Homo sapiens: one gene and its partners. The protein of the gene in region 2 interacts with the protein of the main gene of each other region in a pairwise test. Each region holds a gene or a part of one and is shown on either strand. Other genes may lie near its edges.

Region 1 (5,033 bases), on a different chromosome or scaffold from region 2:
CTCTTGCTAAGGTGGCCAAGCGAGAAGACAGGCCGGGCTGAGCCGCGGGTGCGGTACCACCGGCGCTTTGTCGACGTTGTGCCCATCTTTGGCAAGAAGAAGGGCCCCAATGTCCTTCTTAAGTCCTTTGTAATTCTGGCTTTCTCTATTAAAAAAGCCACTTAGCTCGAAAACTTTTTTCTCAGAAAAATGTTTTTGTTTTTATTATTTTATTAACTTATTTATTTATTTTTGAGACCGAATCTCTGTCGCCCAGGCTGGAGCACAGTGGCACGATCTCAGCTCACTGCAACCTCCGCCTCCCGGGTTCAACCGACTCTCCTGCCTCAGCCTCCCGAGTAGCTGGGACTACAGGCGCGTGAAACCACACCCAGCTAATTTTTTGTATTTTTAGTAGAGACGGGGTTTCACCGTGTTGGCCACACTGATCTGGAACTCCTGACCTCAGGTTATCTGCCCGCCTCAGCCTCAGTGCTGGGATTACAGGTGTGACCCACCGTGCCTGGCTTGTTTTTATTATTTTAAATGAATAACTATAAAATGCAGTTTTAAATTTCTAATACAGTAAACATAGATATTAACGCTCATAAACAAAAGCTTATTGGGATCTTCGTCAATAATGAGTGCAAAGGAGTACTGATTCCAAAAAGTTGAGAATCTTGGCCTGAAAAGGCATATTCCCCACAAATAGGACTGTGAATGAATGCATCCATAATTTTGATATGTTTTGTCAGTTTCCCAAGCACAAAAGTTGTACAATTTTGCACTCCAAGCAACAAATTAAAAAGATGTTAAACTTTTGGATCATTGCCCACTGGCTGGGTGAGAAATAGTGTATTCATATATTTTCAACTTCCATCTGTTATATTATTAATATGTCTAAGCCTTTTATTTTCATATGCTAAAAAACCATTTTCACTTCTTTTGCTGTGAAGTCTATGTTCAAGCCTCTCTCTCAGTTTATTCCATCAGGTTTGGCCTTTTTGGAGGGAGGGGTCAATTTTAAGAGAGAGCTATAGATCCAAGTTCCTGTAAATTGTGTGAGTTGCAAATACTTTCTCCCTCCTTCCTTGTTTTTGATGCTCTCATCCTTTCTTCTGCTTAGGTCTTTGAAATCCCTGCTGGTTTCCCGTGTCTTAGGTCCCTGAACATGTCCGAGATGACTCCACTGAGTCACCAAAACAAAGAAATTCACCAACTCAAATTTTTCCTTGAGCTCTCAGCAGCAGTTAACATAGCTGACCACACCCTTCTTCCTAGAATGTTTTCTTCTCTCATCTGTCTGCAGCTGACATTCCTCTAACTTGTCTGGTCTTGTTCTCCGTGGCCTTTTCTGGTCCCACATCCTCTGAACCTCTCAATCTTGGGGTGCTTCAAGGTTGAGTTCTGGTCTCCCAGTCCTGGTCTCTCCCTAGGTAATCTTACTCGTTTCTGAAGATTTAAGTTCCATTCTCCGATTTCAATCTCCTGCCCAATTCCCAACATTTTTGCAATAGAATGTCTAAGGAGCACTCAAAATTAACATATCTAAAGCCGCTCAGGATCTCAACCCAGTGGCTCTCTTCCCCCAAACTCATTCCTTTAGAGCCACAGTTTAAGCCTTCCTTTCACCAATTCAACTATTGTTTTCCAAATTTATATTCTGTCCTGCCCTCCTCGTCCATCTCCAGCTCCTCTCTGCTCAACCACCAGAATACTATTTTAAAACCAAAACCAAGTGAGCAGGTTTGTGGTCACTTTCTATGGCATTAGAGTAAGATCGAAGTGGGTAATAACCCCGTCCTATACAATCTGGCCTCCTGCCTTCTTCTGATCTCTCTATAGCTTTCCCCCATCACTGTCAATCTAGCTGCCTCTAATTCATCACAGCCCTTCCCCCTTCCGTGGCCAACAGAGCTCTTCTCTCATATTTTTGCAATTCCAGCTGCCTCTTCTTTCTTCTCTTCAGTTCTCAGCTCAAATGTCTTCCCAAGAGAGACCTTTCCATCACTACTCAATTTGAAATACCTTCCCACTACTCATCTCCTTATTTTATTTTCTTAGTAGCGAAAAGATTTTATCTTTCTATGAACAAGTTTACTTGTGGGTCACTCTCCATCCATAAGAAACTAAGTCCTTGAGATGCCCTGTGTCTACATCTGACATACTCGATGCACAATAAATATTGTAAACGATATTTTATGTTAAACCAGTAAAAATTGAAGGTGTAATGAGAGAGGGACAGAGACTAAATATTTTTACAGAAACAGCAAAGGAAAATTGACGAATTAAGTCCCCAGCATGTTGTCTACCCTTATTTTGTTTTTCCTAATATTTTTCTTCAGGCTTTTTCCTGATAACACACAGATACACACACACACACATAGATTCTAAGATCAAGTTTAGAAATCTAAAGAAACAATTATTAAGAAAATGATCTATAGAGAAAATCTCACTTACTTTCTTTGTAGCAATCCTGGGTATTTCCTTTTTTTTTTTTTTTTTTTTTTTTGAGACAGGGTCTTGCTCTGTCACCCAGGCTGGAATGCAGTGGCGCAATCTCGGCTCACTACAGCCTCGAGCTCCCAGGCTCAAGTGATTCTCCCACCTTGACCTCCTGAGTAGCTGGGATTACAGGCGCTGCACGACCACACCCGGCTAATTTTTGTATTTTTTGTAGAGACGGGGTTTCAGTATTTTTCCCAGGCTGGTCTTGAACTCCTGGGCTCAAGCAATCTGCCTGCTTCAGCCTCCCAAAGTACTGGGATTACAGGAATGAGTCACCACACCGAACCAAGGTATTTCCTTTAGGGAAAAAGCTGGAACAGTGGAGACTGAAGAGATTTTATCTGTTCAATTCCTCCCTCAGCCCCGCCCTCACACCATCAGGAAGGCGTCTGTGAAGTTTCTTATCATATTCACACAATTAATCTCATTAGAACCACCTGAGTTTATTAAAACGCAAGCCTCTTCACAGGGTCTCTGATTCCAGAAATCTACGGTGGGGTCCGTAATTTACATTTTTAATGGACTCCCAGAAAATGCTTAATAGCCCTGACCTTGGTTGGATAAATATCTTGTTTTATCTCCAGTGCCATGTACAGTGCCTAACACCTCTAGCTCCTTAAGGTTTGGGGTTTTCTTTCTTAATGAATCTAGTGTATATTGACAATTTCACAGGAAAGAAGCCTTCGAGCTAACACTCAAGACTGTGTTTGTTCCTTAGTAGAAAATAATGCCTGACTTGTTAGTTTCTAGAACGTTTGCTGGAGAAGTGTTCATTCCAGTATCTGTGGAAAGAAAAACCAAGAGTAGGGATAACTGCCTATGGAATCTGTCACAGATGGGAGGTCAGGGAACAATCCCAGATAATTCATACTTGATATTTGGCTTCAGTGAGGAGGAACTCTTCACAGCTTTCTAAGTTTTATAGTTTTGTCCCCGAGGGTTTTTATTGCATCAGTCAGTCAATCCCCTGCTAATCAAACCAGGGAGTTTTTTTCTTTATGCTGCTGACAGGATAATGAGAATTCTTCTGCTTTGCTTATCTGATCTTTCAGAACCTGGTTCTACCTTATGGAATCTCAATACACCGTTTCTCTTTTTCTTTTTTCTTTCTTTTTTTTTTTTTTTAGATGAGAGTCTCACTCTGTTGCCTAGGCTGGAGTGCGGTGGAGCGATCTCGGCTCACTGCAGCCTCCGCCTCCCAGGTTCAAGCAATTTTCCCACTTCAGCCTCCCGAGTAGCTGGGATTATAGGCGCCCACCACACCCAGCTAATTTTTGTATTTTTAGTGGAGATGGGGTTTCACCATGTTGGCCAGGCTGGTCTCAAACTCCTGACCTCAGGTGACCCACCCTCCTTGGCCTCCAAAAGTTCTGGCCACCGCGCCTGGCCATACACCCTTTCTCTTATCTCAGATGATTACCTACACCCACTCTCTTTTCCAAAACCCAATTCCCCAGCTTTCTTCAAATAGACCACATTTATTCCTGTGCCCCCTCCCCTCCTCAGCCAGTCCATCCTCCTTTACTTCTCTTATTTTTCTAATCCAATCTTCCTTTCTCTTCTAAGCCTGGGTACGGCCAACGTCTGTGAAGATACTCACACATACTTGTTGTCAGATACTCTGTCATTTACTCTCACCATCCCTTGAGCTTTCATAACTCTTGAGCTTACTCATCTTGACAAGAAAACTTTGTAATCTTTGAATCAAATGGAAAATAAACATCAAGCATATTGTCAGGTTTTGAAGTCTCTTAAAGCCTGTTTTAGAGTATTAAATGCTTAAATAAATACTTATTAAAGCCTGTTTTACTATTAAATAAATATTTATTAATAATTAAATTATTAATTCTAGAAGAGTCAATATTTTAAGATAATTCTAAAAACATTACAAAAAAGTGTGCTAAACCCTTATTTACTGTTACATGCCCCACCTGTTGCATGCTCCAACCCCGTGAGGTACATCTGCAGCTGATGAAGTAGATGACGTAGAGATTAAGTCACGGGATTAAGTAATTGACCAAGAGCACTGGGTGCAGAAAATTGAAGATATGGAATTTGAATCGGGTGCCAAATTTCATGATATTTCCTTATTATAATTATTTGTCCTTATTAAATATTAATCAAATGGCTTGACAATTTACAAAAAAGATGCCTCAAATTTGTATGACAATTTATCACGAGATGCTTTCATAGGGCTAGAGTAATCACATTACAAGGAACACAGATCATTTTAAGGTAGTTAGATTTTTCATAGGAAAACTTTTCATTAAAATGAAAATCCTGAAGAAATGTAGTTTTTTTTCACTGTCAAAGAACAAATACAATTATGAATGAGTGAGTCATTGTTCTCCTGAGTCATTTCATGAACTTATAACAGTCGTATCCCAGCCGGGCACTCTGGCTCATGCCTGTATCCCCAGCACTTTGGGTGACCGAGGCGGGTGGATCACTTGAGGTCAGGAGTTCGAGACCAGCCTGGCCAACATGGGAAACCTCATCTCTACTAAAAATACAAAAATTAGCCGGAAATTGCTTGAACCCAGGAG
Region 2 (5,470 bases):
TCATTTGTTGCTCCTGGAGTTACACACTAGCTAGCAATGGTCAGTCTTACTTCAGGTCTTACTGACTCCAAAGTCCACACTTGATCCTTCCTAGTGGGCCAGAGAGTTAGATAGAAGTCAGCTGTGCCGGGTACCCCGTCCTTCAGGAAACTGCTGGATTTGCTCACCAAGGTTCTTTTTTTGTTTTGTTTTGTTTTTGTTTTTTTTTGTTTTGTTTTTAAACAGAAGAAAGAATCTATGAAGAAAAAACAAGATGAAGAAATAAATCAAATAGAAGAAGAGAGAACGAAGCAGATTTGTAAGAGCTGGAAAGAAGACTCGGAATGGCAGGCATCTCGTGAGTACCCAGAGGTCTCCATAGCACCTTCCAGGCTCTCAGCTGATTCTCTCCCTTAATAATGTGATCAATCTAGAAAGCGCTTAATGTGGGTTGTTGAGAGATATGTTCACAGTAAGTTACCACTCAAATGTTATTACTAACTTATTACTCAAATGCTTACAGGCTACTTTTGAACAGCAGACTCGTTCTCCATTTATTTCTGTATCACCAAAATTATGATGTAATTTATCAAATAGCATGATATATAGCTATGGAAAATAGGTTTTGGAGAGTGTTTAATGATCTTAGACTGTTTATATCTCATTAGCTTGGGGAAGAAAAAACACCATGAAATAGAATGAAAAGCTTCGCTATTTAGAAATGTCTAAGTATCTGAAGGAAAAGAACTGGAAGGTTATAATAACATGTAAACATTAGTTTTCTTGGAAAGGTGAGATTCAAGATTATTTATTTGAATGTTTTTCTTGTAATTTAATATTGTGTTTTGGATTTTTTTTCCCCTAAATTTTTGATAGTGAATACATTTTAACTTTGTAATCAGAAGCACACAGGAATACCAGGCTGGATGTGTTAGCATCCCGCTCCTGCCTGTGACCCAGCCTTGACTCCTATTTGAGTGAGCAGAATGGGTGAGAAAACTCATAGGAGAAGAATAAGCCCATGCAACTGAAGGCAGAGGAGAGGATGCTCCAGAATGCTAGAAGAATTAGGTTTGTGAAAGAATTAGTGTTTCCATCTGACTCAGAGAAATCTGAACTGCTAGATCAACCTGAGGTGGCTTGAGGAAGACAGCAGGTATGGCTATATTTGCAGGATGTTGAGATCCTACATTGATCTGCAGTCCCATTACAACCAATGCCATTTAAATGACAACTACTGTGAAATGAAAATATTTGCAAGATCCAGTAGGCTCTTTGTACTATGCACTGAAATCCTAGCATAAGGGAATATTTTGGGTGTCTCTTTGAAGTCAAGTATAACAGGATTTGACCAATACTGCCTGAAGTGTAAATATAGTCAATAAAAATCATTTTTACATTCTGCATTTGAGTCTCATTGCTATAACAAAAAATTCTGTTTTACAAAGTAGTCATGCGCTGTATGATGTTTTGGTCAACGATGGGTCGCATATAGTTTTTAGGCCAGGCACTGTGTCTCACTCCTGTAATCCCAGCCTTTTGGGAGGCCAAGGTGGGTGGATCACTTCAGGTCATGAGTTCAAGACCAGCCTGGCCAACATGGTGAAACTCCATCTCTACTAAAAATACAAAAATTAGCTGGTTGTGGTGGCGTACACCTGTAGTCCCAGCTACTCAGGAGGCTGAGGCAGGAGAATTGCTTGAACCAGGGAGGCGGAGGTTGCAGTGAGCCGAGATCGTACCACTGCACTTCAGCCTGGGCAATGTAGCAAGACTGAGTCTCAAAAACAAAACAAAACAAAACAAAAAAAACACAGACACACACATACAGAAAACCAAAAAATAATAATAAAACCCCAAAATAATGGGTTGCATACATTTTTAAAATAAATTTTATAAATGTAGTGTAGCCTAAGTGTAAAGTGTTTACAAAGTCAACATCAGTGTGTAGTAATGTCCTAGGTCTTAACATTCACTGAGCACTCACTCACTGACTCATCCCAGAGCAACTTCCAGTCCTGCAAGCTCCATTCATGGTAAGTGCCTTATGTAGAGGCACCATTTTTTTTTGTCCTCTATACCATATTTTTACTATACCTTTGCTATGTTGGGGGTATTGATTATTTTTATTTTTTTGAGATGGAGTTTCGCTCTTGTCACCCAGGCTGGAGTGCGATGGTGTGATCTCAGTTCACTGCAACCTCCGCCTCCTGGTTTCAAGGGATTCTCCCGCCTCAGCCTCCCCAGTAGCTAGGATTACAGGCGCCTGCCACCATGCTCAGCTAATTTTTTGTATTTGTAGTAGAGTTGGGGTTTCACCATGTTGGCCAGGCTAGTCTCAAGCTCCTGACCTCAGGTGACCCACCGACCTTGGCCTCTCAAAGTGCAGGTATTACAGGTATGAGCCACTGTGCCCGGCCTTATGTTGGGGGTATTTAGACACACAAATACTCTTGTGTTACAGTTGCCTTATGATGCATTTCTCAGGATTTATTTCTCTCATTAAGTCACTAGTGACTGTAATATTAAAAGGCAGACTTGGGGTACTTTTTTGTGTACTAATGTGTCCTACAATTACCTGTGGTTAAGCATCCCTTTAATTTTTTGTCTGTCAGGTTGCTTCTCATTCTGTCCTGCTCTCTGCTCCTTCACCCTATGCACAGCCCCATGCCACTGAGTAGTCCTGATCTCTGCTAGTGAGTCAAGCACACTGCATCTGAACATAAGTCATGCAGGGCGTGACAATTGCCTCTTATTACTCAGCACCCCTGCCAGCTTGAACCCATGCTCAGGCGGGGGATCCTCACTTGGTCTTGCCAACTGCAGGAAATTCTTGCACACTTTCTCTACTTCTCTCTCATCCCTTCTTCCTCCTCTTCCTTTTCTCTCCCTCTCAGAAAACCCCCAGTCCTGTATGAAGAGAGGAATCCTGCAGCGAACGCTGGGCAAGCCCTAATGGCCTGGATCATAGGTGTTGATAATGATTGTTCCTTATTATAAGCAGACAACAAACTGCTGAGAACCTGCGCTGCTGCCCGTTGTGCAATGAATGCTGAGCCTTCTCACCTGCTCTGTGGGCTGATGAGGGTTTTCTCCGACCCCGTTGTTTTTCCAGTGCGAAAATCCAAAGCAGCTGATGAGAAGAGACGCTCCTTGGCTAAACAAGCACGAGAAGACTACAAGAGGTTATCCCTCGGGGCCCAGAAAGGAAGAGGCGGTGAGAGGCTGCAAAGCCCCTTGCGTGTTCCGCAGAAACCAGAAAGACCTCCCCTTCCACCCAAGCCTCAGTTCCTAAACTCAGGGGCATATCCTCAAAAACCTCTTAGGTAAGAAGCCACACAGATGGGTTTATGCATAAACATTGCAATGGGCTTTGAATAAGCGTTGAAATTAAAGGGGAATTGTATGAGCTGCCATGGGGTGTGGAGGGCCAACTGGCAGCCTGTGTAAGTAGCTCAGGTTCATGTCTAAGCCTTCTTCCTGGGTGATCTGGGCGGGCATTCCTCCCTTTTTTAGCTGTCAAATGTCCATAGCTGTTATACTTAGTATACCCAGTGAAATAGTAAAGCTGTGCATGGAATGAGAGAACTTCCCGTGTCCCTACCCCACTCTCCCCTTTCCCTCCCCCGCCCCCCTCCCCCCCAGAGGCAGCCGGTGAGCCAGTGAGGGGAGAAGAGGAAACAAGTGGGGTTTCACTGATGCCCAAGATCACCCTTAGTCAAAGATTATCAAAGTAGGAACCCAAAGGCTTGCTGACTTTCGTGTGATCAGTGGGAGTACATTTTCACTGCCAAGGATTAAAGGTTTGATGGTAATTCTCATTCACGGATACATAGCCAAGTTCCTCTTTTAAGAATTTGGAAAGCCTCCTTTTTTAGATGAATTGTCTATTTGGTGGTGGAGATACCATTGTCTGCTAGGCTGTGGAAGAATTAGGAAGAACCATTTGTTCTGGAAAAACTGTAGAAAAGTGCAATGATGCTATTAAACCCCCATCCCTTATGTTTGCTGATTCTAAATTTTTTTCTGGTTATTGATCTTATTTTTAACATCCTAGTATTTAGAAAGAAGTATTAAAATCAAATGTTGATTGAAAGAAACAGAATTGTCTAAAGCCTTGCATTCTGAAATAAAAACTAAAAATAATTTGAAATACTTCTCTAAGATTATGGAGAAATGAAAAATAAGACTCTTCTCCTGCTTGGAGTCGTAGTTATCTTCAAGGTTGTCTTTAAACAGGAGTGATGACCTCAGGGGAAACACAAAGGCGGATGTTTTTCTTTGCTGTAATTATTTCTACTTACTCTACTGGAAAGTTCCGTTTCGGGAAGTGGGGACCAACGTGGAACTCAGTGGAGTAAGTGGAAATAATTACAGTAAAGACCATGATCTCCAAAGTGATCGTTTGGGTAATGATTCTTCTCTTACCGACAACAAAGCAAGAAATGTAGTCAGGAAATAGGAGTCTCTTAATTGTGAGAACAGCTGACAAAGGTGCACACGGCTCTAAGTGCTGGAGCTTGTCTGTCCGCACGTTGGCGACAGAGCCTCAGCAGGGATGTTTTTGCAGCTAACTCCTGTTCACCGTCTCTTCCAAAGGTAGCATGGAAATGACTTGTAGATGTCCCTGTCCCACAGCATTTTGAAGGACAGTATATTTGATTGACAGCAATGAAGGTGGTCTTTAAAAAAGGGCAATTCCTATTTTCAGCTGTGCTCAGTTAGCTCATTTTTTCCAACTGAAGACACTGCATGAAGTGCTTTTTGTGAGTCAGACTGGGTGGTTTTAGGGCTGGGACTTGACACAGGGATGGCAGAGGTCACCTCAGAGCCACCCCAGGAAAAGACAGACCGGCTCCTACAGTGTCTGTGGAGTTTTGCTCGATCTCCAAGGACTTCCCAAAAAAGAGCCTAATTTGGAAGCTAGTAAGAGAATGTATAATATAACTTCGTATGTGTGCAGTGTCTGCCTCCCAGGGAAGTAAATATTATAGGATATTTTCTCGAAAATGCTCCGAAAATCATTAGGGATAATATATACACATACATGCATATGTACAACTATATATATATATATCTGACAGTATGTCACACGTAACTCAGAAGCACATGTTATAAAAAGCGTAAAGAACCATAAGTTGGTCAATTACAATACTAGTAGTTCATCGAAACTTGATTGTGGTGGTTGTGTTTCATAAATTGTATTTTGTTTTTAATTGACACAATAATTGTATGTATTTATGGGATACAGTGTGATGTTTTGATACATATATATATATTGTGTAGTGATCAAATCAGTATAACTCACATATGAATCACCTCAAACACTTGTCATTTCTTTGTGGTGAGAACATTCAAAATCCTATCTTTTGGCTGTTTTGAAGTATGTAGTACATTACTGTTGACTGTGGTTACCGTGCTGTGCAGTAGAGCAGCAGAACTTATTTCTGCTGTCTCACTGTAACTGCGCCAGTTGACCAACCTCTCCCTA
Region 3 (3,237 bases), on a different chromosome or scaffold from region 2:
CTACCACATGGGAATGTTTGAGTCAGAGTGCCATGGCCTGAAATGTTTCATCCAGAAAGAAAGGGTTGCCCACTGTCACACAGAATGAAACTAGGAAGCATTTAAAATAGAAGGGCATTTGTGAGAAATGAAGAACAATCCTATCTTATTCACCATCTCACAATGTGTTTTGTTTTGTTCTTTAGAGACAGGGTCTTGTTCGCTTGCCCAGGCTGCTGTGCCGTGTCACAATCAGAGCTCACTGTAGTCTTGACCTCCTGGGCTCAAGCTAGCCTCCCACCTCAGCCTCCCAAGTAGCTAGAACTACAGGCATGCATCAGGGTCTTGACATGTTGGCCAGGATGTTTTCGCACTCCTGCCTCAAGCAATCCTCCTACCTCAGCCTCCCAAAGTGCTGGGATTACAGGCATGAGACACTGTGCCCTGCCAGTTTCCTCATGGAAATACAGTTAATTCCCAAACTAGATACAGGTGCCTCAATTACAAATATGCATTCAAAGGGAGTTTTAAAAAAATTTATTGGCTATGTTTGATTATCCACAACAGAATTTCCCTTAATTAGCACAGGAAATTGAAAGTTGGTTATAATTTAATATCTCTGCTCGTCTTCAACAGACATACTCAGCATTTATACTTGTAAATAGAATTGAGTTTTCATTGTTTCGTTTTCTGTTTTTGTTTCCTTAGGAACAAGAGGATGAAGGAAATATGGTCAGCATTTTAATAACACCATAAATCCAAGATAATAAGTAATTCTATAAAGTTTTCCAGTTTCATTAATTCAGAATTTCATCATATAACTTGAAATCCAATTGGCTTCCTCTTTCTTAGAAACAAAAACCAAAGAAACCTTTTTCTGAAAGACATTATTTTCCAGTATTAGGCCAATTTGTCCTCAAATTAAGTAGAATCTCAACATCTTGTTGAGCCAGTTTGTAAATTCCAACTTCATTTAATGCTGCTGTGGCAGGAAGCTGCCCTGAAGCTGACTGCAGTACATCTTTCAGCAGTAGTGCAGAACCGACGTTCAAATTCAAAACAATACAGGCTTCTTTTATACTGTTTAGGGAAAACAAAGGAGGGAAATGAGATCTCCATTATCTGCATCAATTATATTACAATTTTGAGAATCCTAAACAGCTTCTCTGCACTGCTGGTCCACATGTTCTCTATAAAAATATTTATGGATTTATTATTTGGTTCTTTTAACATGGTAAGACTACACAGGTGCAGAGTTGCTATTTCTTTAGATTACTATAAGGTAATACGATCCCTATTTCAATATGTATCCGTTATTTCCCTAAATACAATACTTAATATTAACACTATATTAAATATAGCTATAACTTTAGGTAGATTAGAACATGGGAAAAGACAAAAATAAGAGATAAATGAAAGCAGCAGAAAGAACATTAAAATAAATTTTAAAAACAGTCCTATGAAACGTGTAAACATAAGCTTTCATTTTATAAGTCTAAAAGGAATGCTTTATAACCTCACAAAACCCAAACATAATTTAAATTTTACTTTTTTTTTTTGAGACATGGTCTTGCTCTGTCACCTAGGCTGGAGTGAAACTGCACGATCATAGCTCACTACAGCCTCAGCCTCTCAAGTAGCTAGGACTACAGGTCCACACCCCCACACCTGGCTTTTTTTTGTTTGTTCATTTTAATACTTTCTGTAGAGATGGAGTCTTGCTATGTTGCCCAGGCTGGTCTCAAACAGCTGGCCTCAAGCAATTCTCCCACCTCTGCCTCCCAAAGTACTGGGATTACAGATGTGGGCTACTATGCCTGGCCTATAAATTTTAGATCAACAAATTCTGAAACTATAATTATATTTAGAACCAAAATTAATGTCAAATGTTTAAGGAAACAAATTTCTTTCAGGCCTGGCCTATTAGGTATTAAACATATTTGTAATTTTTTTTTTTTTTTGAGACAGTCTTGGCTCACTGCAAGCTCCGCCTCCCGGGTTCACATCATTCTCCTGCCTCAGCCTCCCAAGCAGGTGGGACTACAGGTGCCCGCCACCAGGCCTGGCTAATTTTTTTTTTTTTGGTATTTTTAGTAGAGATGGGGGTATCACTATGTTAGCCAGGATGGTCTCGATCTCCTGACTTTGTGATCTGCCCAACTCAGCCTCCCGAAGTGTTGGGATTACAGGCGTGAGCCACCACGCCCGGCCCTGTAATTTCTTATATTTAGTGAATAGGGCACAACTGTACTTGTTTTCATTTTCTATTTATTCCTCCAGTAACTAAGCAACTAGAAGCATTAAACCAAATACTAGAAAACAAAACCCAACAGGTAATTTATATCTAGTTCTGAAACTTTTTGAGGTCATGGGTCACATCTATCATCTTGGTTTCCCCATTGTGCTGTAAGCATACAGTAGATAGACAATGTTTTAAAATTTCAACTGATCTTATCCCACCCAAACATCTCCAGAACCCTAAAGTTAAAAGGAGTTAGCCTCCTGTAACAATTTGATACATTAATATTAATTGTTAAATGTTGAGCTTACTGTTTAAAATAATTTTCTGGTCTCTTGCAATAGTGAGAAAACAAAGGGAAAAGATTCCGAGTCATATCAAACTGCAGCTGGGCTGCTCCTCCTTCATTGAAGTGATTAGCAAGAATTATCTGAAACAAAGAATAATTCATATAACAGTTGTCTTTATTATCACAGCCCAAAAACAGTCTATTCTTACTTACTTCTTGGTAGATGTATACATCCAGCTTCTCTACAAGCATTTGCCAGAAAATTTTAAATAAGGAGAAACAAAGCTGCTGCTCCAACTGAAGTAAATGGTCTCGTAACGTCAGCAGCAACGGGCAAGCCGAACTGGACAGGGACATCACTGCCTGCTCTGACTGAGATGGCAAGGACAACCATCTGGAAAAAACACATTTTTACCAAAAAATTTTCATCAGTTTCTATTTTTCAAGTTTTTAAATCATTTTAAATTTGAGGAAGTGTTCTGTCCTAGGGCATTTTGGATAAGAAAAAATATACAGCCTAACATTAAAAGCTCTATCAGAAAATAAATGTACCTGTATTTATATTTTCACTCTCAAATACTCTTTAATATGGGGATATATCCAAAATATCCCCAAATTTTAATATGTGAATTACTGATATAAGGCAATTACAATTTAAAATGTCACTTAATTTTTGCATTTTATTTATGTAGTTTTTCTTTTTTTTTGAGACAGAGTCTCGCTCTGTTGG
Region 4 (3,852 bases), on a different chromosome or scaffold from region 2:
AATGCTGGGTGCAGTGGTGTGCACCTGTAGTCCCAGCTACTCAGGAGAGTGAGGTAGGAGTATTGTTTGAGCCCTGGACTTCAAAGCCAGCTTGGGCAACATAGCAAGACCCCGTCTCTAAAAAAAAAAAAATAATAAAATAAAAAAATAAAATAAAATAAAAGAATAAAAATAAGAAGACCACACCTCACAGCAATTAGATAATCCAAACGACATGGATTTGGAACTTGGATTCAAACTCAAGCAGTCTGGTTCCAAAGATTTCATTCCTAACCACTTAAGTGATAGATTTTTCATTTCTGTTCACCTTTAGTATTAAGCCAATACAGTTTGCTTTGAAGCCCCAGTTCCATCTTTTTAAGTAAATGTGGGCAAGAGGCTTAGTAGTTATGGCTAATTCTGGTTTGCTCCTGCTGCTGGGCACTCTGTCTTTACACATGGAGTAGTTCCATATAGTGGGAAAAAAAGTCTCACGAAGCCCAGGCCAATGAATACACTTTCAGACTTAGAAGGCCATGGTTACAACCTTCCTTCACCTCAAAAACTGAAAAACAAGACCCCACACTGCTTTCCTATCACACCTTGTAAAATGGGGCCTCTGACCCTCCTTGATTTGATGAATCCTATTAATGTTCATCCAATGCTCTCTGCCCATGATCCTCTATCATGGTTATTTACACATTATGTGTCATGCCCAAGCATAAGTGGGAAAACCAACTTCCCCTCCGATAACAGATGAAGACTCTAATGAAATCTACTAAACCTCACACCCAGTTTGGGGAATCCAAGAATTACTATACACTGAGGCAGATACTTTATTTGGGGATTCTGCCTGAAGTAAGACTAAAGAGCAAAGTCTCTTCTTTAGAAAGGCAAGAACAAGGGGCAGAGTAAAACTAAGGGAGCATAAAGAAAGCCTAGAAGTCCACGTGTAGAGGGAAGAATAAAGGGGGTAAGAAGACACAATAGAAGAGGGGTGGAAACAGAAGAATGACAAAAGAAGGGCAAAAGCTACAGTCCAAGTGCTAGAGCCAAGCCAGTTTCTTACAGATGTAGGGTGTGTGTGTGTGTGTGTGTGCGTGCACGCACACACGTGCACACACGTTACAAGTGGAGAATGAAGGTAAGGTATCCTAGGATAAGGTCTCCTAGCAGACTTGCATTTTTGGCTCATAGTATTAGACTTTATTGGTGGTAGCATAGAAAGTAGAAGAAACGACTCATAGCTTCTGGCAGCTGCTTAGTTAAATTAAGGTGAAATGGGCTAGAGACAGGCAGGCTTCCTCTGACACGTTTAGATCATATTCCAAGTGTTTATCCCAGTAGCCTAGACTAGCCTGTTGACACAAAGAGCTCTTCAAATATCTGTAGGTAGCAGGGTTAGGAAATTCCTGTGACAGGTTTTCATTTCTGCCATTTTTCAAAGTACACAGGATGTAGAGCATGGATAGTGATATAGTATTGATTGGTAACAGGCCCACTGGCTCCCCACTCAATATGAAAGTTTAAGAACTGGAGTAACTGTGCATAGAAGAGCTTATACCAAGAAGCCCATTTTATCACATGGAAAATCACAAGGTTCCCTGTTTCAAATGTCTAATCCAAATTTTAAAAACATGTTCTATTCCTATGCTAGTTTAGATGAAAGAGAGTTCAGGATGCTATAGGTAAATTTCTTAGGTTAAGAGGTTGCTAGAGAAAAAATGATGTTTGAAAAATGTTTCGGCCAGAAGCAGTGGCTCACACTTGTAATCCCAGCACTTTGGGAGGCCAAGGCAAGTGGACTGCCTGAGCTCAGGAGTTCGAGACCAGCCTGGGCAACACAGTGAAACCCTGTCTCTACTAAAAATACAAAAATTAGCCGGGCTTGGTGGTGCACGCCTGTAATCCCAGCTACTCAGGAGGCTAAGGTGGGAGAATTGCTTGAACCCAGGAGGCTGAGGTTGCAGTGAGCCGAGATTGCACCACTGCACTCCAGCCTGGGTGACAGAGCAAGACTCCATCTAAAAAAAAAAAAGAAAATGTTTCTTAGGACAAATTTTAGAAAAGAGATAGTTTAGAGAGTATAGTTTTAGAAATGGCTTGTCACCTTGGTAGTCATTTAATACTAGAAAATAGCAAAATCATAGGACTATGAATAAAATTAGTATGAAATGTTCTATAAATAGTCAATCTATAGAATTACTGAAACTTTATTATGTCAAATTTAATTTTCAGGCATAAGTATGAATTTCTGCACAACAGAACAACTCCAGATATAAGAATAACAGTTCCACCAAAGAAGATTGGCATTCTATTAGACTATGAACATTCAAAGTTGTCATTTTTCAATGTGGACCTTTCTCAGCATCTATATACATTTAGTTGTCAGCTTCACGAATTTGTGCATCCCTGTTTTTCTTTGGAAAAGCCTGGGTGTCTAAAGGTACATAATGGCATTTCAATGCCAAAACATGTCACTTTCTATTAGAACATTCTGATGTCCAGTTTCCTGTCTTCCATGCCTACCCCTCTCGCAGCTGCTCACGCCTTAGCTGGCTGAACCTGGCACTTAAGCACCATGTGCCCAGCACAATTTATGGCTCATGCTATTATCTGACTGGTGTGCTAGCGCTCATTTCACCCAACCTGGATTCTAGTCCTGTGTGCTGCTACCTGTGTGCTGCTAGGATAGTCATTACCAGGCCCAGCTGTAAAATAAAGGCTCAGACTAAACGAACTCAAAAGTCTTTGAAGCTGTCAAACTATATTCGTGTATATGCAAAATATCTTGAGTTTCCAAGACCTAGAGAGCTTGGGAGAGGACGAGGGTAGTCTTAATGGCTCCAGCAGCACCAGTACACCCATGCATTTCATGAGTCAGCCAAGAATACACTTGAGAAGGCGAGAGGCTGTCTGTAGAGAACCAGGGAAGCTGTGTGCCCTTCTCAATGTCTTCTACCCTCGTTTTCCCAATAGTGAGCAGCACTGTGGTGAGGTCCCTTCCACTGTGTACTCTGCATACAGGGTATTCCCTGTTCCACTCCTACACAGTATGCACCACTCTCTAATTTTGAAATTACCTCTATAATGCCTAATTCCATGAAGGGAGGGACAGTGCCTGTTTTGTTCATTGCTAGATCACCAAGGGCTAACACATAACAGCTGTCACCAAGTATTTGTTGAATAAATTAGTATCTTCTTCAGCCACTGCTCTTTGGCCTCTTACTGCTCTCCATGTGAAGGATGGCAGGGCTCTTTCAAAACTACAGCAAAGGACCTATGGCCAAGAAATGGGAAAAAACCTAGAATGGAGGCAGCGTGAAAGAACAGAAGGGCATCTGTGGCATATTAGCAAATGCACAACAATTTTTTAAAAGAAATTAACAGCCCACCAAAGGGCAAAGCTGAGCACGGGAAGGAAGACTGATCTCTAGCTAGGCAGCTTTCAGGCATCCTGCCTCACTGCCCCCAGGCCATTCTGTGAGCTCAATGCCCAACTCCATCAGCTACATTCCTGGTTCTCCTGTTCAAGTTTCCAGTTGCCACTTAAGCTCTGCACACACAGCATTTTCAAAGCTTGTGAGTGAAGCTGCAGAATAATTCCATTTGTGAAGCAATTACAATTCAGTATCATGTCCCACAGATGCCTCTAAACCCAGATATGCCCTAATCTCATCATTTAAGGTTTTGTGTTTAAAAAAAAAAAGTCCACTTTTCTTTTTTCTGGCGAAACCCCGTCTCTACTAAAAATACAAAAAATTAGCCGGGCATGGTGGTGGGCGCCTGTAATCCCAGCTACTCAGGAGGCTGAGGCAGGAGAATTGCTTGAACCCGGGGGCAGAGGCTGCAGTGAGCCGAGATTGTGCCACT

The links. The genes of interacting proteins can lie anywhere in the genome.
Region 1: the proteins of SH2D4A (region 2) and TRIML2 interact in binary tests that used the Homo sapiens proteins (3 or more experiments, as listed by UniProt).
Region 3: the proteins of SH2D4A (region 2) and RINT1 interact in binary tests that used the Homo sapiens proteins (3 or more experiments, as listed by UniProt).
Region 4: the proteins of SH2D4A (region 2) and FSD2 interact in binary tests that used the Homo sapiens proteins (3 or more experiments, as listed by UniProt).

The regions. Positions count from the first base shown.
Region 1 is NC_000004.12:188,106,804-188,111,836, forward strand, and holds the start of TRIML2 (probable E3 ubiquitin-protein ligase TRIML2), read right to left. Parts: upstream 2,801-5,033; 5' UTR 2,440-2,800; intron 1-2,439.
Region 2 is NC_000008.11:19,360,978-19,366,447, forward strand, and holds part of SH2D4A (SH2 domain-containing protein 4A), read left to right. Parts: intron 1-225; coding exon 226-337; intron 338-3,094; coding exon 3,095-3,305; intron 3,306-5,470. UniProt on the Homo sapiens protein: Inhibits estrogen-induced cell proliferation by competing with PLCG for binding to ESR1, blocking the effect of estrogen on PLCG and repressing estrogen-induced proliferation. May play a role in T-cell development and function.
Region 3 is NC_000007.14:105,564,941-105,568,177, reverse strand, and holds the end of RINT1 (RAD50-interacting protein 1), read right to left. Parts: intron 3,055-3,237; exon of another isoform or gene 2,902-3,054; coding exon 2,721-2,901; exon of another isoform or gene 2,649-2,720; coding exon 2,530-2,648; intron 1,856-2,529; exon of another isoform or gene 1,060-1,855; coding exon 867-1,059; 3' UTR 725-866; coding exon of another isoform or gene 688-724; 3' UTR 501-687; downstream 1-500. Other genes in the region: EFCAB10 (EF-hand calcium-binding domain-containing protein 10), read left to right, coding at 688-711, 2,563-2,629. UniProt on the Homo sapiens protein: Involved in regulation of membrane traffic between the Golgi and the endoplasmic reticulum (ER); the function is proposed to depend on its association in the NRZ complex which is believed to play a role in SNARE assembly at the ER.
Region 4 is NC_000015.10:82,757,966-82,761,817, reverse strand, and holds part of FSD2 (fibronectin type III and SPRY domain-containing protein 2), read left to right. Parts: intron 1-2,217; coding exon 2,218-2,470; 3' UTR 2,471-3,852.